Regions from separate parts of the Homo sapiens genome. Here all the other regions are reported to be linked to region 4. Evidence: microRNA targets listed by miRTarBase, many of them from high-throughput screens and not tested one by one. Region 4 holds a microRNA gene; each other region holds the end of a gene's coding sequence.
Evidence for each region. The annotated mature microRNA hsa-miR-183-5p reads UAUGGCACUGGUAGAAUUCACU and lies in region 4 at 2,388-2,409, opposite strand. An mRNA with a match to its seed (bases 2 to 7 or 8) in the 3' UTR can be bound and repressed. Matches are read on the target gene's strand: a 7mer-m8 pairs with bases 2 to 8, a 7mer-A1 pairs with bases 2 to 7 and ends in A, and an 8mer does both.

Region 1: the mRNA of ARFGAP2 is a reported target of hsa-miR-183-5p. Seed matches in the 3' UTR shown: 7mer-A1 at 1,499-1,505 and 7mer-m8 at 2,190-2,196.
Region 2: the mRNA of NIPBL is a reported target of hsa-miR-183-5p. The part of its 3' UTR that is shown has no 7-base or 8-base seed match.
Region 3: miRTarBase lists SMAD4 as a target of hsa-miR-183-5p. Seed matches in the 3' UTR shown: 7mer-m8 at 2,926-2,932 and 7mer-A1 at 390-396.
Region 5: miRTarBase lists TWNK as a target of hsa-miR-183-5p. The part of its 3' UTR that is shown has no 7-base or 8-base seed match.

What each region holds. Positions count from the first base shown.
Region 1 is chr11:47,162,401-47,166,694 of GRCh38, reverse strand. ARFGAP2 (ARF GTPase activating protein 2) reads left to right here. Exons shown (of 16, transcript NM_032389.6): 14 at 96-189; 15 at 309-427; 16 at 1,193-2,394. The coding sequence ends at 1,213. It also overlaps a transcript of CSTPP1 not described here. Among named protein-coding and RNA genes, the nearest start is that of ARFGAP2, 12 kb to the left of the region's middle.
Region 2 is chr5:37,064,333-37,068,626 of GRCh38, forward strand. NIPBL (NIPBL cohesin loading factor) reads left to right here. Exons shown (of 47, transcript NM_133433.4): 47 at 195-2,081. The coding sequence ends at 560. Among named protein-coding and RNA genes, the nearest start is that of CPLANE1-AS1, 180 kb to the right of the region's middle.
Region 3 is chr18:51,077,567-51,081,860 of GRCh38, reverse strand. It overlaps SMAD4 (SMAD family member 4), which reads right to left. Exons shown (of 12, transcript NM_005359.6): 12 at 1-3,605. The coding sequence ends at 3,394. Among named protein-coding and RNA genes, the nearest start is that of SMAD4, 50 kb to the right of the region's middle.
Region 4 is chr7:129,772,580-129,776,873 of GRCh38, forward strand. MIR183 (microRNA 183) reads right to left here and starts at 2,435; the gene lies at 2,326-2,435. It overlaps MIR96 (microRNA 96), which reads right to left and starts at 2,190; the gene lies at 2,113-2,190. RefSeq lists an enhancer at 654-1,515.
Region 5 is chr10:100,992,170-100,996,463 of GRCh38, reverse strand. TWNK (twinkle mtDNA helicase) reads right to left here. Exons shown (of 5, transcript NM_021830.5): 5 at 2,061-3,274. The coding sequence ends at 2,954. Among named protein-coding and RNA genes, the nearest start is that of LZTS2, 5.5 kb to the left of the region's middle. RefSeq lists an enhancer at 1-437.

The DNA of each region.
Region 1 (4,294 bases), not on the chromosome of region 4:
CTGCTTTGGGCTTTAGCACCAGGAGGGCCTGGCCTGTGTGAGTCCTTGGGTCATCAGCCCCAAGATCCCCAGGCCTGGCCTTTTCCTCACCACAGTATGAGGCCAGGTCTCGGCTGCAGCAGCTCTCAGGCAGCAGTGCCATCAGCTCTTCAGACCTCTTTGGGGACATGGATGGAGCTCACGGAGCAGGTAGGGCCCTGGTGGGGTGGCAGGCACCAAGTGAGGCCTGGGAGCAGGGCGGGAGGGCCCTGCTGTGACTGGGAAGGGCTTCTTGCTGGGCTCTGGGTCACCCTGCTCTTGTTTTACAGGAAGTGTATCTCTGGGGAACGTGCTGCCTACAGCGGACATTGCCCAGTTTAAGCAGGGTGTCAAGTCTGTGGCTGGGAAAATGGCTGTGCTGGCCAATGGTGTGATGAATTCCTTGCAGGTGAGGCTGAAGTGGGGCCTAATGAGGAGTGCTGGGAGGTTTGCCCTTCGCCACCACATAGAGACACTGCTACTGCTCAGCCCCTCTGAGCCTTAAGAGCATTTTCGGCCGGGTGTGGTGGCTCACGCCTGTAATCCCAGCACTGGGAGGCTGAGATGGGTGGATCACTTGAGGTCAGGAGTTTGAGACCAGCCTGACCAACATGGCAAAACCCCGTCTCTACTAAAAATACAAAATTAGCTGGGCATGATGGCGTGCACCTGTAATCCCGCTACTCGGGATGCTGAGGCAGGAGAATCGCTTGAACCTGGAGGTTGTAGTGAGCTGAGATCATGCCACTGCACTCCAGTCTGGGTGACAGGAGTGAAACTCTTGTCTCAAAAAAAAAACCACAAACGAAAAAGCAAGAGTCTAGAGAGAGGCATTTTCTTGGAGGGCAGCTTCCTTCCTTTCAGCTCCGTGCCAGGGCCGGGCCTCTCCAAGATGCCTCTGTGTCTGCCATGATCTTCCCTGGCCTTGTCACCTGTACCGCTCTTTCTCTTCTCTTCCCAGCTTCTGTGAGGCCAGGCAGGGCTTCCCTGTTGTCGGGTGCCCGAGTGGCCGCTGCCCCAGCTCTCACCGTGGACTCCTGCCTCACCGGGCTGTCCAGCCCCTGCCTCCCCAGTCTTGCTGTGGGGTGCTGGGGCAGGCAGTGTGTTTGCTGGGAAGCTGCTGCAGCTTAGAGCCTCTGACTTTTTTTTTTTTTTTCTCCCCCCTCGCCCCCAGGATCGCTACGGTTCCTACTGATCCGAGCTCTGTGACTCAGGCTTACGATGGTGACGGCAACAAGAACTCCACAGTTCCCAGGCTGGGGATGCTTTGCCTTGTGGAAGCTGGGGAGGATTTGTTACTTCGTATGTGTGGTGTGTGTGTGGGGTGGCCTTTGAGGCGCTCACTCCTGTGAGGGGAATGGTCAGTACCAGCCCTTGTCCTCTGCCTGTGGACTGAGCCCTTTATTCCCTCTCACACCACCCTCCGTGTGTTAGACTCTTGTCCTTCTGTCCTGCCCCCACAGCTGCTGCTCACTTATCCTGCCATACTGGGAAAGGGGGTTCCCCCACGATGGCTTATTCTGGGTCCAGACTTTCCCCAGGTAGGGAAAGCGGAAGGTAGAAGGCTTTTTTTGCTGGCTCTAGGGTTCTTCTAGTTCGAGGCCTTGGGTCCCCATCCTCTGGAACCAGGGGGAGGCCTGGAAGGAGTTCACTGTAGACCCGTCCCATGGGGAAAGAGGCTGCGGACTTGCTGCTGCTGCTGCTGCCAGTGGCCTCTTCTGGGTGCCAGGAGAGGGGAAGGACCTTTGTCTGGGCGTTACCAAGGGCTGGAAACTTTACCTGGTACCTAAAGGTTTCATTTGGGATCAGACCGGAGACCCTTGGGTTCTCCCGTCTCACCACCCCTTTCTACAGTAAGCACTTGGAAGATTGTTTCAGGGTGTCTCAGGGTCCCTCTGTACCATCTGCTGTGGAATGCAGGACCCTCTGTGACATTCTTTATCCCTTCTTCCCCGGGTTGGTGGCCATGGAGGGTCTTGTCTGCTGTGATTCGACTCTGGATGCTGTGAGCTTGATGCTGGCCAGGGAAGCAGAGGATGTGAGAGGCAGAGGCAGGCTCCTGGGGCTGAGCTCCTTCCTCTGCATCATTCTGGGCTTGGCCTGGACAGCACCCGCCAGTGAGAGCTGTGGGCCTCACCCTCTGGCAGCTGAGCCAAGCACTGTCATTCTTGGTGCCATCTTCCCCTGCCGCACCGGCAGTCTCAGCCCAGCCCCCACCTTTGGGTTGTAGGTTGGGCTCCCAAGCAACACAGACCACTCTTCCCCTTGCCCCTCCCCCAGAGGGACTTGACTTTCTTTCTGGACTGTTTGTATTGAAACAAAGTGGTGTCAAAATAAAGCCCCTGCAGGGCCTGGCTCCCTGTTGGTCTGAGTGAAGCAGTGTCCTCTGGATCCTGCCTCCCTGCCCAGTGCCGGCCCCTGGCCTCACTCTCTGGGCTCCCACCGGTAATGGTAGGGCGTCGGTACCGAAGCTGAGGACACTCTCTCCAGGGCCTCCTGCTTCTCTCTTCTCTGAAAGCCAAAGGCCCCTGGCTCCTTGGCTCTGTGCTGCCGTGAGGTCCGGTGCAGCTTCGACCTCACCACCCTGTGGCACGCAGAGGAAAGAGCTGGCATTAGTTGGCCCTTTAACTCGCTGGCTGAGGGCGAGCGAGCAACCTCAGCAGTCCTGCCCCTTGTCACGGCAGTAGGCTTGACTGGGGATGGGTTTCAGTGGAGTTTAAGAAATATTTAACGCCGGGTACAGTGGCTCATGGCTGTCATCCCAGCACTTTGGGAGGCTGAGGCGGGTGGATCACTTGAGGCTAGGAGTTTGAAACCAGCCTGGCCAACATGGTGAGACCCCATTTCTACTAAAAATACAAAATTAGCGGGGTGGGGGCGGTGTGGTGCATGCCTGTAATCCTAGCTACTCAGGAGGCTGAAGCAGAAGTCACTTGAACCCGGGAGGCAGAGGTTGCAGTGAGACTAGATCGCGCCACTGCACCCCAGCTTGGGTGATAAAGTGAGACCCTGTCTCAAAAAAGAAAAAATTACATATATATACATACACACACATACTCTTAGACGTTAATGGGACCCTTTAAATTTAGGGAAGAAAAGGTGTGTGTTTGTGTGTAAATCCTTAGCTTGGCCACCCCTTTCTCTTGGGGGCTTCTGAAACATCTCTGTGCCACCTTAGGAGTCCTCACGGTAGTTACAGACCACTGGTCTGGGAAGTGGATGATTAGAAAGGATGGGCAGAGGGAGCCAGGGGGCTGTAAGCCAGGGATTTGCAGAGTGTAGGTTTGGGACTCATTCAGCTTTGGGATCATCTGGAATTTCTGGACTCCATCCCAAGTTGATAGAGTTAGACTCTCTGGAGCTTGGTAATTTGCATCGTCAGTAGGCTTTCCTGTGATTCTGAGGACACCAGGATTTGAGAACCATGTCTCTTATGGGCTGTGCATCATTGTGGGCCTACAGAGCTCATCACGCAGCCTGAGCTTTTTTTTTTTTTTTTTTTTAAGATGGTCTCATTCTGTCAGTCACTCAGACGGGAGTGCAGTGGCACGATCATGGCTCACTGCAGCCTCAACCTCCTGGGTTCAAGTGATCTACCTCGGGTCTCCCAAGTAGCTGGGACTACAGGTGCAAGCTACCATGCCTGGCTAAGGTTATTTTGTAGAGATAGGGTCCTACTATGTTTCCCAGGGTGGTCCTGAACTCCTGGGCTCAAGCAGTTGGCCCACCTTGGCCTCCCAAAGTGCTGGGATTACAGGCAATGAGCCACTGCATCCTGGAGCAGCTTCGGGGCTGGAATGCCTAGTCTTGGCCTCAGCTCTGCAGGGGTTTGGGAGGCAGTTCCTGTAATGATCCGTTCTGGGTAGGGATGAGCCCAAGGAAATGTGTATGCCTAGTAGTGGTGACATCCACCTTCAGAGGAGGCAGTCCTGTTCTGCTTGGGCTTCTGGGTGGGTTTTGCTTTCTGGGGGACCCCGCCCCTTCAGCCCTCAATCCAAAGAAGTTGAAGACACTCGTCCTTACCTGCCTCCAGTCTTGGCTGGGATGTGTCTGCCCCAGGCTGTGTCTGTCTGTCTTTCACAGCTGCATCCCACTGTTCTAACCCCAAGCAGGTGCTTGGCAAATGTTGACTGAAACCCTGGCTGGAAGGCTGTGCAGTATTAACCCTTTATGGCCACGGTCTTTAAAGTTATGGGAACCTGGCCTTGAACCCTCTGAACCTGTTTCCTGAAGGCCGTTCCAGCTGTGAGCACTTTTCCTCTGGAAGGTTGCTCTT
Region 2 (4,294 bases), not on the chromosome of region 4:
GAGTTATATGGTTTTACAAGTATATGTTAACCCCTTGGCGCTGGCGGTCACGGTGCGTCTCATTGCCGGCAATGGAAGTGTGCCGGGAAATCCCAACTCCCGGCGTCAAGGGATTAAAAGCAATAAAAACAATAATTTCACTAAAATTCTTTTGTGTAACACTTGGTCTTTTTTCCCCCCTCCCAATGTTTTAGTCATTGAGAAGGTCAAAACGAAATTCAGACTCTACGGAGTTGGCAGCACAGATGAATGAAAGTGTTGACGTCATGGATGTCATCGCTATTTGCTGTCCAAAGTACAAAGATCGACCACAAATTGCAAGAGTAGTGCAGAAAACCAGCAGTGGCTTCAGTGTTCAGTGGATGGCAGGCTCCTACAGTGGCTCCTGGACTGAGGCTAAGCGCCGTGATGGCCGCAAACTGGTGCCTTGGGTAGACACTATTAAAGAGTCAGACATTATTTACAAAAAAATTGCTCTAACGAGTGCTAATAAGCTGACTAATAAAGTTGTTCAGACTTTACGATCCCTGTATGCCGCCAAGGATGGGACTTCCAGCTAATGAATTTGTACATGCAGCCAAATTTACAGGAATTTTTTTAAAAGGCAGAAAAACTTGAAATACCAACATTCTGGCAAAAAAAAATCAGTTTTATGAAGAGTAAGTGGAACCTGGGATGCAGGAACAAAAGAAGGAAATGTTGGGCAAACATTTTTGTGGGAGCTCCCTTCGCTGTTGTGCAGCAGAAACAGATTCTCAGTTCATTTTTACTCCCACTGTATTATAGTTTAACAAAAATTGTTTATATCTTGGAAAAAAAACTTTCTGTTTAAAAAAAATAAACAAGTGAATGTTGGAAATTAGTCTGTTAATGTTCTTAATAAAGTGTTCTTGGAGTTTAACCTAGCAGCGGATGGCTTTCTTTAGCTTAGCCCAGTTTCCAGGGAAGCATTGTTTTTTCCAGGCTGTAAAATGGCAGAATCTCCTGGATATATAATTTATTCTGTTGAAAAAAAAAAAAGCATGCAGTATCTATGACCTATCTGCAGAAGGAGTTTTTGTAAATGTAGATTTTGATGTATTAGGTCACCCTGAAAACAATACAAGAAAAGGGATCCCCAGGTAATCTGGTGGAGCGAATACTGCAATAAATTTTTTTACTTCTCTTTGTTACTTGTCTGTTTCCATTTGAATTTCTTATTGTAAAAATCTGTTTAAATCCATTTATATTATTTTACAGTCTTTTATGTAAAATTTATTATATCACTGGTTTTCAAAGCAAAACATAAAATATTGTTTATACAGTTTGTATAGGCTGACTTCTGAATAATTGGTATCTATTATTTTCATTCCCATAAGAGGGTGTAAACAATTAACTCCAGGGTTTTATTGTATCCTGCAATATTTAGTATTAACTATATATGATTTAGCACTGTGCCAAACACATTTTCAAGAGTACATTTTGATATAAAAAGAAACTATAGTTTATTCCTTGTATGCTTCAATTTCTTTCTAGTGATGTCATGATGCTGATATTTATTCTTTAAACCTCGGGTAAAGGTAACCTGTTATTTGGAAAACCAGCATTTCTCTTGGTTAAAATGATGTCCGGTTATTTTAGAACTAGAGTTGAGATGAATATGACACTTCATAATTACACTCACTACATTTTTCACAAATTATTTTTTAATGCTGAAAAGAGTAATTTTACTTGTTGAGATGTTTATTCATTTTCTAATCTATGCTAAAAGCTTTTATCATAAGTCTTGGGAACAGTTGTCATTTACACATTACTTACTGCAGATATCTTGACTAAATCAGGAGGGAGGTGTTTAATCATTTGATATGTATAGTTGACACTCAGGAATAGTAATGCCTAAAATTTACAGTGGATGAGGTCTGTTTCAAGTTTAATTCTTTTTAAAAATGTTTTACTTATTTTTAAATCACTTTGAAAAAATTGACCTCCAGAATGCTGTTTTATGAAATTGGCAAATAAATGAAGGTATTCAATTTTTGAGGAAGAATGACATTGCCACAAAATACCTTTTTGTGACACCTATTAAACCACTATGAAAATAACTTTTCAGGATCTATTTCCTATGTGGAATTCTTTCAAATGCTTTCTTCACGGAAATGTTTTCTCACTCTTCGTTTTGTTCCCCTTACTTACATGTTTCTCTTTTCCTTATACTGTGAACTCTGGAACAAAACTAGATTGGGTTGGTTGGTTGGTTGGTTGGTTCTTCTTGGAGTTTATGTATATCAACAAAGGATTTGAGGTCACTTCTGAGAATAATATATCAAAAAGGGTACTGGTTAGAGAAAATATAAGAATAAAATCCAGCCCAGAGAGAGTACTAAGAATGTAAATGTGAGTAAAAAGCCAGTTTTGAATTCTATTTACGTGACAGTGATGCATGCTGTCATTTAATTCTCACAAAAACTCTCGTTATATATTTTATCCTCATTTTGTAGATGAGGATAGCAGGCTTAGAAGGATTTGGTAATTTACTAATGTCATGATAGGGATTTAAATCTGGAATTGAAGTAATTGTGTCTCACTACTCTAAGCTAATTGAACATCAGACATTAAGAGAGATGATCCTTATTGAAGTAAACCAGTTCCTAAAGGATCCTTGTAGTATACATACTTGGGAATCCTGTTCAGAGTAATTTTTAGGAAGTAGGTACACAGTAGTAAGTCTTCTGTTGCCTCAGTTGGCCATAGATGGAATTCTGTGTTTGCCACTCATTAGAAATTTAGGAATTTTAGGCAGGGCACGGTGGCTCACACCTGTAATCCCAGCACTTTGGGAGGCCGAGGCGGGCAGATCACCTGAAGTCAGGAGTTCAAGACCAGCCTGACCAACATGGGGAAACCCCGTCTCTACTAAAAATACAAAATTAGCCGGGCGTGGTGGTGCATACCTGTAATCCCAGCTACTCGAGAGGCTGAGGCAGGAGAATCGCTTGAACCCAGGAGGCGGAGGTTGCGGTGAGCCGAGATCACGCCATAGCACTCCAGCCTGGGCAACAAGAGCGAAACTCCATCTCAAAAAAGAAAAAGAAATTTAGGAATTTTAGGAATCAGTTTTGAAATTTTGTATATATTCTAAGCTCCTATTTTATCTGTTAATAGAAGCCAAATGTTAATATAAGCCTTAACTCTTAAATATACAAACCAAAATTTTCAGAAAGTTGAAGATTCTTCAAGATGAATTGTTAGGTCTTAACACTATTAAAGCTTTGGCAGTCAAATATACAAAATCAAACTTTAAGTATATTGGGGATTCACAAAGTTCTATTAAGTATTTAGAAAGTTCAGTCTTACTCTATAGTGTGTTGATTAATTACCATAGATTAATCTTGTTATATTGACTTGAAAAGATAGGTTATATTTGATATAAAAATTTTCAAGTATCTCTTCACTTTTTAAGTACATTAATATGAAATTTTAGCCTTATTGAAATTGTTTATTAAGAAAGAATGGCTAGTTTTAAAAATATGTTCATACCAAAATACACATGGCAGAAAATTCAGTGATCTCTAGAATTTTCTAGATGTAGTAATCTCTAATGGAAGAAATGCTGAGTTTTTTGAGAGAAATATATAGCTTACTCTGTTGATAGGTTGAGTATTTGAATTATTCAGGTAACTGAAGCACACAGGTGATTTTTATGACCATAGTCTGTCTCATGAAAACAGGTAAGTCAAACTGATGTTTGTTCAATACAGATTTCATGATCAGCAAGCAAATTTACCGTATTTTTATTTAGAAATAAATTAACCAGGGAAGTATGTGGTTCTCCCTCCCCTACCCACCACTTTTAGTTGCACAGAAAAATTCATCCTTGTCACTACCTGTGTCCAGGTGGTCTGCATCTTCAGAACTGTGGATATGGATAATTGGAATAAGATTACTTTTGCAAATATAAAACTCATCAGATTACCCACTTGAAATAATGTAATTTGAAACACTTGATAGTAATTTTTGCCCCATAAAAATCCTACGTGTTTGAACCTTTTGCTGTTTGCCTTGCTCATTTTAAAACCAAAGTTTGTTTAGTCCTATAGCTAATGTTTGTCATAGGCAGCATTTGTTACAAAATGATTTTACTAATTTTTCACTTGAATTTTTTTCTGAAATACAGTCTGTCCTATTGGTGCTAGCCGAGAAACAATTACATGCAAATTTAGTGTAATAGAAAGTCACTGACCAAACAAATTCAGTTTGGTACTCTGTTGACTAAGTGGTCATAAAGTTCCTGTGTGTTTTGCATGATGATGTGAGT
Region 3 (4,294 bases), not on the chromosome of region 4:
GAGCATTAATAGTAAAATGTAAAATTTTCCTTCCCCAGATGACCATAGTCAAAGATACCTGCAACTCACCTTCCTACAATTAGCAATAAACTTTAAAAATAATAAGATGTATATCATCTGGGAGACAGGACATTTTATTTTGCCTTCAACTTGTATTACAAACACCCCCCTTTACACACCACACCCTGCCCCACAAAAATGGATTTTAAGTCTGAAATGCAGCACAGCTAATATGAGTTCAGTTTACTCACATGTCTCAAGTATGGCTCTCCTTAAGCCAGACCATGCAACCTGTAAATCTGCACTGTTCACAGGAGGAATGGTATAGGCAACCTATTTAGTGGTTACAGCAATACAAAACAGCCATGTTTCTGGAAAAAGCAAGGTTATATGGCAGTGATTTATTGTCATTATCTTTGTATACCAGGGGCGGTAAACTATTAAAAATGAGATAGACTATATCCCACGATCTACTCCCCGGAAAATAAAGGCAACACCATGAAGGATTCCCTTTGATAATGCACTGAAAGGCACTGGACAAACATGGAATGAGGTCTTACGGTGGGTGTACATGGCTCATCTCTCATTCAGCTTGCACTGAAATTCAACATTTTGAGACTCTTTGAGATATGAATTAGCTAGAGAAAACCCACCCAGAACCATAACCTCATAATTTTACCCTTAAAGTAGACATAAAATTTTAAACCTGTGAGAATCTTTAGTCTTATTCATCAAAGATGACTACCACTAAGAAATAGAAATATAGATTAACAACCAAGCTCTCAGGAATAGCTGATCATAACATACTAGATGTTTTCTCAAAAGCGTGTGACTAAATCTAGGTACAAATATAAGCACTTAACAACTAGAAGTATTTCTATACTTTATGGCTCTTAGTAGAAAGAAACCAAGACAGGTGGCTTGGCTCCAAAGAGATACTTCTTAACAAATATTTTTCACATACTTTCCCCAGATGATTAAACATGAAAACTTTCCTTAAAGTAGAAAAGGGAACAATGAGGCCAGGGACAGTGGCTCACGCCCGTAATCCCAGCACTTTGGGAGGCCAAGGTGGATGGATCACTTGAGGTCAGGAGTTCAAGACCAGCCTGGCCAACAGGCAAAACCCCGTCTCTACTAAAACTACAAAAGTTAGCCAGGCATGGTGGCGGGCACCTGTAATCCTAGCTACCAGGGAGGCTGAGGCAGGAGAATCAGTTGAACCCGGGAGGCAGAGGTTGCAGTGAGCTGAGATCATACCACTGCACTCCTGCCTGGGCAACACAGCAAGACTCCATATCTCAAAAAAAAGAAGCAATGAATTATGTCAATGTATGATTAAGGTTTTAATCAAATCATCTGGATTTTTAAAAATCTGTTATTCTAAAACTCACTCCTATTCCTCATTCACAGTAAAATGGACCTAAAGTTAGCAATTTCTAGAGAAGATGTCTTTTTATAAAACTGCCAATAAAACTTAAATCACCAAACTTTTACAGAAGAAAATTAGGTGTTTACTGAAAGAATTTGTAAGTAATCAAGAGTACAAATGAGGTGGTAGATAAGTTATTTAAAGACAAAAGTCATGTAGCTTGGATCAAGATCTATGTTTAAATCACAGAAATAAGCAAACTCAGTGGTTTCTAGGATGGTCTATTTAAAAGACCTTCTGAGCAAGGCAGTAGAAGCTGTGTTCATTCCAGGTGATATAAGGAGGACTATCATCACACAAGTGTTTCTATAGCTAAAAGTTCTCCAGGCAAAAGTAAACACATCTGAAAGATAATCCTTGATTTTATTTCATACTATTTATCCTGTAGACAATCTATTTATCATCTTGTAGATAATCAGGTCTATTTCTGCTATAGTAAAATAAAAATTAAAAAAAAAAAAAACCAACTCTACACATGATACACAATGTCCATGGGGAAGTCCCGGTAGAGTGTGAGGGAAAAAAACAAAGCTGCCCAATAGAACTGGCTGTTGCCTGTCATTTAGTAGAAGGTACCTCATCACTGAGATTGGACTCAAAAGTGCAAAAGAAAAAAAAAATCTTAAAAATCAAACCTAGAATTCAACTTTGTATGTTGAGATTCAGTTTTATTTATGCTACCAGCTAGGTAAAAAGCATACATATTGTGTCTGTGGTACAGTCAATACATCTGCAACTTTTCTACTTAAATTCTCTATACAAAGTCACTGCCAATTGATATGATCATTGATGGCAAAGGGCTTAGAATAACCAAAAGATATAAAAAAGTTTGCAGTCTTGCCCCAAGATACAAAAACTGAATTTTAAACAATATCATAACATACATGATTTAAACATTATACCAAAAAAAGTCACATCAAATCAAGTACAAAAATATCCAAACTACCTATTATGAACTGTAATGTTTCCATTATTCTGCACAGTATTTAACATAGAATTTAGCAGTTTCCAAAATATTCAGTTTATTCATTATTTAGTTTAAGCATTGCCACCTTTGCAGAACAGTGAGACATTAGGTAGAGTGACGCTGCTTTTAGTGTTTTAAAAAATACAAAACCTTTCCCTATGAATGAAGGAAAAGAAATTCCTCTTATAGGCTTCTTAGCAACCAACCTTGTGCCTAGAAATACAGAAGAATACAACTACTGTTTAACAGGGGAAAAGTATACTTCATCAACAGTCATCCACTAGGAATAACAAACGTAATTTTAAATTTTTTTGTCTGGTAATTTTAAGGGATTCTCAATATACACACAGATTAAGAGTTTTTTGCCTTGGCAAAAATAAAACTGAAGTTGCAAGACAATCTGAATTGAAACCATCTTCACTAATATAACTTGCAAAAAATATTTTGGATGAAAGATTACAATACATTATTAACTTACTTTTTAAACACAGAGTAAAGTTACTCTTGGTAAAATTAACTCACCCACATGGCACATTATTTTTGAAGTATGTTCAACAATAACAACTTGTACACAAAATAACATAGGTGAATTAACTTTGAGAACTTCTCTGCCTTTAAAATCAGCAATACTGGATTATTCTGTAGAATGATATACATATCGATGTTCTGCAGATAAAAGGCTCTAAGACGTTTTAAAGGGCTAAATTTTCTAGCACTGGAATGATTCCTTCATACATAACAGGTGAAGAATTAATAAGAATGTGTTTCTCCTAATCTTCAAGCTCTGAGCCATGCCTGACAAGTTCTGAAGAGGAAAAAAAAAATTGTTTTAATCCAGTTTCTGTCTGCTAGGAGCAAGGCAGCAAACACATTTTCAACCCTTTATGAAAAGATAAAGCAGAACAAAAGTGAAATATATCTTCAGATTATAAACAGGATTGTATTTTGTAGTCCACCATCCTGATAAGGTTAAGGGCCCCAACGGTAAAAGACCTCAGTCTAAAGGTTGTGGGTCTGCAATCGGCATGGTATGAAGTACTTCGTCTAGGAGCTGGAGGGCCCGGTGTAAGTGAATTTCAATCCAGCAAGGTGTTTCTTTGATGCTCTGTCTTGGGTAATCCGGTCCCCAGCCTTTCACAAAACTCATCCTGAGTATGCATAAGCGACGAAGGTCATCAACACCAATTCCAGCAGCAGCTGACAGACCTAACAGAAAAGATTTGGAAGACATCAGAGGGACAGGGTGATCTCTTCCCATCCTCCCTACATTCTAAATTAATCAAGTGACCAGCTTTCTGTATTTCATTCTCCTCAGCATATAACTTCTCTGCTAAAGTGCCAAGAAGTAACAGTAGATCTAAACTTTATCAACAAGCTGCACACTTTTGGTTAAGGAACTTTACATTTCACATGTGTCTTCTAGCTACAACCAATTATAAAGTAAATTACCACAATCCACCAACACCTCACCTATTTTTTTCTTTAGAAGTGGAGGTGAAGGGATAAGAAACAACTTGTTTTTAAGAGGTAGTGCGTGTCCACAGGTTGCTTCTAAAAACCTTACTGTCTAAACAGCCTAGTTCAGAATAAGACATAACTAATAATGAAGCAGTTAATATTCTTAGTTCCACTAAGACCTCTTAGATGACCGAGATGAAGTCTCTCTCTCAATTTCAAAGTGTAACAGAGTAATACACTATTACTCAGTGGTGGCAACTGATGAGAATATGAAACTTAATAATAGTTCTGGATTCTTCAGTAAAAGCATGTTTATAACACTGAAACCAGCAAATTAATGGTATCACCCCAAATTTTAAAAAATCAAATTCTCTCAATGAATATGCCTAATCTACCTCTAAATTGTAAACTCCTGAACATAAGTCACAATGGAGACT
Region 4 (4,294 bases):
GTCTTTAGGGAGGAGGGCCAGCTGTGGTGGCCCCCACTCTCTGGGACAGTCACTGTTGTGGGTGAACTCACCACCCAGGTCTGGCCCGGAACTAGGTAAATTAGGAGATCTAGAAACTAGCTTTGGCCTGAGGTCCTCCCCTGGAGCGCTGGAGCAGGGCCCCAGAGCAGCCGGGCCTGAAGCCTGGTGGAGGCACGCCCCCACACCAGTGCCTGCACTCGGGGCTCAGCAAAGGCGCCCACCTGGGCAGGTGTGAGGAGGTGGAGCCCAGCTGCAGACCACCCAGGGGCTGAGGGCAGCTTCTGTCATCCGGCCTTCCCCGCTAGGCAGGAAGGAGCAGAACCCTGGCCAGACACTCCAGAGGCTCCAGGGAAAAGCTCTAGAACCGGTCACTGCCAGGGGCCTTCCACCCCCCCTTGCTGGGTCTCTGTGCCCACCCCACCTCCAGGGCTCATTCTCACTCAGGCCGGGAAATCCCTTCTTTCCTATCCCATGGGACCTGCAGCAGGACGCCCTAAGGAAGCACCCGGGGCGGAGGACTGGAGCACAGAGACAGGGTGCGGCACAGGCCAGCCAGGTTCCGAGGGGCAGAGGGAGAGCTGGGGCCATCAGAAGAGAGACCTAGCTACAGGGACACCTCACCAGGGCAGAAGTCCCCTTCTATCCTGAAATAAACAAGCCCCTCCTTTTTTCTGCAGGGGCTTGGAGAGCTTCTGTAGAGAAACACGGGCACCACACCCCAGAGGGAATTTATTGGGGGCTCCTCGCGGTTTGGTGATAGCTAACTGACAAGAAAAAAAAGGCCCAACCCACCCAAGGCAGTCCCCAGGGCACCCAGGCAGGCAGCACTGGTCACCATGTTCCTGCTGTGCAGTCAACTGGACCCGTCATCCTCCAGCTGCCAGCTTCAACCACACACATCCCCCACCCGGGCACTCCCTGGCTCAGACACCTAAAATGACTCCCACTGATCTGGGCTAAGTCCACCAACCCTTGCCTGAGGCTCCCTGGGGAGAAGCAGCCCCATCAGGGGCTGGCCCAGTGACCTGGGGCATGATAGCTCCCAGCTGGTCCCAAGTCGGCCACTGGTCTCCTGCTTGATTGCTGACCACCAGATTTCACATGGGTCCAGCCTGGCTGGCCAGGCTCTCCCCAGCTTTGACAGACTAGGTCCAGGCCTCCCAGCCTCAGTCTCTGCCATCTGGGGCATCCTTGGGAGCCCAGGCCTGTAGATTCAGAGCTGAGACACCTCCAGGCCCTGGGTGCCTCCATGGAAGGTGTGGCTGGTGGCGGAAGAGCCACAGTGACCCAGCTCTACCACTCACCAACCTCTTCAGCCAAGCCTTTCCTCTCAAAGCCTCAGGTTCCCCATCTATGAGATAACTATTTTAAAAAATTACAAGCCCCACAGGGCTGAGGTGGGAACTGTTGGGATTATATATGTAATGTCACCTGACACCCAGATGGAGAGCATAGGCCAGTTAGTCATAGCCCAGATCCAGGGACCCAGGAAGCTACATTACCAGTGTGTGGTGTGTGAAGGGGAACATTGGCCTCTGCTCCAGAACCTTCTAGGGGCAGGCCTGAAAATGCCCTCCAACTCCGAGCCCCACTAAGTATCCTCCTCTTGGAGCTGTTCGGAGATGACCCACTCCACAGCAGGCTACAGCTCCAGAGACGGTAGCCCCCCTGGAAACACCCAGGCTGACCTCAAGGGCAGCCCACCTGCCTGGAGCTGCCCCCTTCACAACCTGCAGCAGAAAAGACCAGGCCCTGTGCTGCCAGCCAAGGTCTCACCCCAAGCGTGTGCTGGGAGCCTGGCTGGGCCTTTCCAACCCACGGCACCATTCAGGATGGCCCTACAGATGGTTTCAGACTCCCCCACCTCTGCCCTGGGCGGCCCCATCTGCTGGCCCAGCTCAGATTGCTGGGCTCCCAGCTCTACCGTGGCCCCAGGCAGTGTAAGGCGATCTGGCTGCCCACCAGCGCTGGGCCCTCACACAGCAGCTGAGCCAGATGGGCTGGGGAGGCGGTGAGGAGGCCTTGAGGAGGAGCAGGCTGGGGCCCTGACACAAGGATGCAGGGGAGGCGGACGCAGCTGCGGGTCCTGCTTTTCCCATATTGGCACTGCACATGATTGCTCAGAGCGGAGAGACACAAGCAAAAATGTGCTAGTGCCAAAATCGGCCAAGCAGATGGCACTGGTGCGGGCTCTCTGGGGACACACTGGACGAGGGGCCTTGCATCCCTGCACCCTTGGAAGCAGCCTGTTTCCGACGTCTAGGAGCACTCAAGGCAGAAGTGGGTAAGGTGCTCCGGAGGCCCTCGTGGATCTGTCTCTGCTCTGTTTATGGCCCTTCGGTAATTCACTGACTGAGACTGTTCACAGTGAATTCTACCAGTGCCATACACAGAACAGGAGTCACACTCTGCGGCCTGCCGACCCTGCGGAGAGACCAGCGGCCCACGATGCCCGTTCCCTGCTCCTAGCCTGCCCACTCCCTTGGGGGCCCCCCAGCAGGCCCTCAGCAGCGGCTGCTACGGTCTCTACCCCCCACCCCATCCCACCTCTTCACAAGATCCACATGCCCCATCAGCCCAAGATGACCTTCAAGGAGACAGGGACAGTGCGGGAGAGGAGCTGACCTTCTGGCCTTGCAGAGGAGAAGACCACACCAAGGTGTCTCCTATCTCCACCTGAAGGCCCACATCCCTCCACATCACCCAGACTGCGCCTCCAGGCTGGGGAGGGAGTGGGTCAGGACCATCCATCTCCTTGCCAGAGTAACTCTGGCTCGGAGAGGCAAGCAGCTGGCCAGAGCCTCCTCTCTACCCAACCTGCCACAGGGGCAGTGACCAGTGGGACATCCAAGATGCCTCTCGTAGCCTCTGAGCCCAGACACCAGCAGCCCAGGCTCCTAGGCACTTTGGTCTCCATTATCCTCCACCCCCCAGCCTGCCCTGTGGCAGAAACAGAGCCCCAGGAACAAACCGAATCTGCTGCTCACCCCCACTCCCATCCCAAACCAGACCAGATTGGGCCAGACTGTGAACCGCCCAGGCTGGGCATCTCTGCTGCCGGCCTAGGATCAAGGCAGGAAAAGGCCAGGAAAGGAGGGCAGAAGAGAAGTCCTGCAGCCACCCAGGTGGCTTGGAGGGAGCCGGAGGCACGGATGCACTCTAGCAAGGGAGTGGCTCCTGGCTGGCTCTGGAGTGACTGCGGAGGAAAGCGGAGGCTCAGGAGCGAGGGAGGGGCTGGGAAGGTTGCATCAGTGGTTGCCAGAGCAGCTGCCTAGAGAGAAGTTGCTGTGGAGGCCCTGCCTCTGGTGTCACAGGCCCTGGGGAAGGACGGGAAGAAGGGAGAGGGTGGGAGGGAGGGTCTCTGGGGAGCTGGCACCCAGGGCAGGCAAGCTGGGGCCTCCGCAGAGTGGCCACTAGAGTCTCAGCCTACTCCAGGTCAGCGGTGGCCCAGAAGGCAGGGTGGCTAGAAAATATCCTGGAAGGGTCAGAGCAGGTGCCCTGGCCCAGAAACTATGCAGACCTCTTGGCGATGTTACCCCCAGGAACTACCTCCCGTGGACCTCAGAGCTCCATCTGGGTACCTTGGCCAAAGCCATCCGCTCTCCCCTAGACACTGCTTAATGCTCCACCCTTCCTGCTCCCGAGGACTCTTTGTCCTGCTCCCACACACCCCCACTACAGGGCTCTGCCCTTCTAGCTGGTCTATCTCCCCAGAGGACAATCCAGCTTGATGAGGTGGTGATCTCAGGAAGTCACTCCTCAGCCTTCTGCCTCAGTTTCCCTTACTACAATTTTCTGAACTCTACTAAGGAAGAGAGACCAGACTTCCCAGCCTTGGGTGGGGAGGGGAAGGGGTGATGGCAGGGTGTTAGCAAAGAGTATGGGGTGGGTAGTTATGAACATTGCTTAGGGTGTAGCCATAAGCATCACCCAAGGAGCCTGTTGAAATGTAGATTCTTGAGCCTGCCTGGAAATCTGCATTTTAATAGCACCCTGACAGCTCAGCATGGGGTGGGGGTGGGGGTGGGAAGATCTATTTTGAGAAATCTTTCCCAAGAAGCCTCACCCTGGGATAATTAAACAGAATGCAGAATTCTTCTTTCTTCTGGCTGGGCGCAGTGGCTCACACCTGTAATCCCAGCGCACTTTGGGAGACGGGAGGATCGCCTGAGGTTAGAAGCTCGAGACCAGCCTGGTTAGCATGGTGAAACCCCCGTCTCTACTAAAAATACAAAAATTAGCCAGGCGTGGTAGCAGGCGCCCGAAGCTGAGG
Region 5 (4,294 bases), not on the chromosome of region 4:
GCAGCATGTAGGAAGGTCTACAGGTATCTGGCCCATATGGGCTACAGGAGACCTCGGTGAGTTGTTTTTTGAGACGGAGTCTCGCTCTGTCGCCCAGAATGCAGCGGCACGATCTTGGCTCATTGCAACTTCCGCTTCCCAGGTTCAAGCGATTCTCCTGCCTCAGCCTCCAGAGCAGCTGGGACTAGAGGCGCGCACCACCACGCCCGGCTAATTTTTGTATTTTTAGTAGAGACGGGGTTTCACCATATTGGCCAGGCTGGTCTCAAACTCCTGACCTCGTGATCCACCCGCCTCGGCCTCCAAAAGTGCTGGGATTACAGGCGTAAGCCACCGCACCCGGCCGAGTTGTTTCTTCTTAAACCCATCCACAGCAGAGAGGAAGCTGCCAGAGGACCAAAGCTGTCCCCTCATGGCCAAGTGTGACATACATTATCAATTAGAGGACAAGGCTGTAGATCCAACTGGACCTGGCTTAGCCAGGCCTTTCCTGAGATCTCAGGGAAATTTTTTTTTTTTCCTCCCAATCCACCGAACCTGTGAGTCAGGGAGATTCTTAACATCCAGTTGGGTGTAGACAGACCAGTCCTATCCCAGGGAATCCGCACAGGCCCTAGGGACCCCCCACTGCTTTCTAGAATCCAGGGATCTGAACAGACTGGGTGGAATCATGATATGGGGTATTTAAGGCAGGTATGGAATAGAACGTGTTTGTGCAGCGGGTAGGGCTGGGGGGAGTATTAGCTTCCCCTCCCCCTCATCATTCTGGTTTGTGCTGTGTGGGGGTGTCTGCTAGAAGGGTGGGGCAAGACAAACAGCCAAGTCTGTATCTATCCCTCTATCCCCAGTTCACAGAGACCTCACAAAGGTCCCCTACTGGAAACCCCTAAAAGATCTCCTGAGAACCCACCAGGCATTCTAGGGAGACAGGAATGTGGAACCCACATCCTTACAGGTATGACTGATATGGTATTGTGCCTCTGGAAGGCATGGCTGCCGTTCAGCGTTACAGACTCTGGATGAGGCCTAGACCAGCCAACGGCTGGGAATGATTACTGCGGGATTAGGGAGGCCTGGCTCCAGCCAGTCTGGGAGAGACCCCCAAGAAGGGAGGCCCTGGAGGAGCTCTCCCCACCCCCCCAGGTTCTTCCTCACAGAGAGCAGCTTTCCAGCAGCCTTGCTCCGGATGTTTCAGGAGACATTTGTGACCAGAGTTCTCACACTCCAGAGACCACAGACCCCTCCATCGGCCCCAGAAGCCCCTTCATAGGTTGAAAGGAAGAGCCTGACAAGGCAGCCCTGCTTCCAAACGGAGCAGGAAACCTTCCCCCAACCCTTACAAAAGGATTCTCCCCAGCCCCCTCAGAACATATTGCATTCTCACGACTCTTTCAGGCAAATCCAAAGGGAAACTGGGACTTTGGGATATCAGAGGACGAGAGATGAGAAGGTGTCATCATTTAGGAATACTTCTGACAGTCCCTCTGGGTCACCTATTTTACAGTCTCCTCCACGGCTTGTTAAAAATGAGGATTACTGTACCCGTCCTCAAATCCAGAATGAGAAATGTACGTGGTGGAGGATGGGGGGAGAATGGGGCCTAGTTTCTGCATTTTTCACAAGTCCCCAGGAGTTCTGGCACGCATTAGCATATGAGAAACACGGAGAGGGTACAGGAGGGAGATGGATGGGGGTGGACAGAATATGTTGAGTCTAAGTCCACTTGAGAGGTGAGTGGCTCACATCACAGAGGAATGGCCAGTCAGGCAGGGCACTGGGCTCATGTGGCCCAGTGATGAGTACCTGTGCCAGGAATCACTCGAGATCCTCAGGGAAGTTAGGTATGAGGACAGATCATCTTGTCTTCCCTAGGCCAAGAAGAGATGTAAATGGAAGGTGGGGTGTGAAGGCCCTTTAATGTCCCTGCTTCCTTGGAAGCCCACCGCTCAAAGGCTGCAAGCAGTGGGAGGGGACCCGTCCATTCCCAATCCCGAAAGGGAAATTCAGCTACGGACTGGGGAGACACCTGGTGGATGAATAAGAAAAAGCACAGAAACAAAGGCAATGGAAAAATTTTTTAGTAAAACTGGAAAAGGCTCTATAAAATGTCCTGACTCCAGCAGTCTTGAGGCAGCACACAATGGCATCAGTGTCTAGGTGGCAGGCACTCCGGGCTGACAGCTTCCTTCTATGGCTCTATGACCAAGCAACCCAGCCCGAGGCAGCTCCCACCAGTGAGGCCCTGATATTGCAGGGCTAAGCACCTAGGATCCAATTCTAGTACATGCCACCTCATGCTAGGCTCTACAAAGTGGGGAGCAGAGGAGCTTGGTACCCACTGTATCACCCTTTGACTTTGAAAGCCTAGGCTGGAGTTTCGCATGAAGTCCCCGATTCCCCTCCAGGTTCATGCGGCCTGACCTCACTGCCTTGAATCTGACCTGCTCATTCCTACCTCAGGGCTTGGATTTCCTTTTCTCTCTGCCTGGGTCCCCTTCGCCGGATGTTCACGTGGCTCTCTCCTTCTAGTTGTTTAGGCCCCAGCTCACATGCCCTCGGCTCAGAGACACCTTTTCAGACCACTTATCTACACTAGCCTGCCAGCACTCTATCGCATTTCTATTTTCTTTACAGCATTTTTCACTAAAACTAGGTTTTCTGCTAATTTGTTCATTGCTTGCTTGTCTCTTCCGCCAGAATGCATGCAGGCAGGGACTTTATCTCTCTTTTCAGTGCTGTATATACAGGACCTCAAACAAAGCCTGAGCAACACAGTAGTTTCTCAGTAGTCTGCTACATTGAATTTTCTCACTATGGAAACCTGCTCTAGGTTAGGCCCCTCAGACTGAGAAGGGCACACAGCTCAGGACCACAGGATAGAGGAGCCCTTGCAGAGTTTTATGCTCCAGCCTATCCTATCAGGCTCATTTCAGTGACCAGCTCTGCACGGCCTTCACTTTGAACGCTTGGAGGTGTCTGGCTGGTCGGGAGTGGGGGCCTGGCCTGAGCAAATCTCAGAGTTCTGTGTCGTAGCCCCCTTTTTGCCAGAAGAGGGCTTTTTGGCCACTGGTCCAGTGTCATCCTTGATCTTCTTGAGCCGGGCCTTGTTCTTTGGTGGAATGGAGAAGGTGAGGGAGTTCTTGTTGAACTCAAGCGGGAAGACACCTACATCTCCATCAAAGCGGTTCTTGGACACCTGCAGATACCGTTTCCCTGGCCCGGTTACCAGCTTCCTGTCCTGCAGGATCAGAACATTGTCTGCTTCCTGGCTTGCCTGGGGAACAGGGGGCAGAAGGAGGAAAGCAGGAGTAAGAGGACATGAGCAAAGCAGAAAGGGGGGCTGACAGGGCAGGGAGGAGTGATAAGAATGGGGAGAGGGGCTGGGTACAATGGCTCACGCCTGTAATCCCAGAACTTTGGGAGGCCGAGTCGAGTGGATCACGATGTCAGGAAATCAAGACCATCCTGGCTAACACGGTGAAACCCCATCTCTACTAAAAATACAAAAAATTAGCTGGGCATGGTGGCATGCACCTATAGTCCCAGCTTCTTGGGAGGCTGAGGCAGGAGAATCGCTTGAATCCGGGAGGCGGAGGTTGCAGTGAGCCAAGATTGTGCCACTGCACTCCAGCCTGGGCAACAGAGCGAGACTCCGTCTCAAAAAAGAAAAAAAAAAAGAGAAAGAATGGGAGAGGGAAAAGTACTTCCCCCCATGACCAAAGCTCTTTGAACTACTGACCACGATGCTGGGGCCACTCAAATCTTTCAGTTCCCTGACAAGCTTGCTACTGTTTCAGACGCTGCCTGTGCTGTTCCCTCTCCTTCTCCACAGCGGGCCACCCCACTCAACCTCAGCTTCTTCTCTTTTAGGTCTCAGTCTAAATGTCACATCTCATGAAGGAGACCATTCTTTTTTTTTTTTTTTTTTTTTTTTTAAAGACAGGGTCTCAGCTGGGCACGGTGGCTCACGCCTGTAATCCCAGCACTTTGGGAGGCCGAGGCGGACGGATCATGAGGTCAGGAGATTGAGACCATCCTGGCTAACACGGTGAAACTCCGTATCTACTAAAAAAATACAAAAAATTAGGCGGGTGTGGTGGCACATGCCTGTAGTCCCAGCTACTTGGGAGGCTGAGGCAGGAGAATCACTTGAACCTGGGAGGTGGAGCTTGCAGTGAGCCGAGATCGCGCCACTGCACTCCAGCCTGGGTGACAAAGCGAGACTCCGTCTCAAAAAAAAAAAAAAAAAAAAAAAAAAGATAGGGTCTCACTCTGCTGCCCAGGTTGGAGTGGA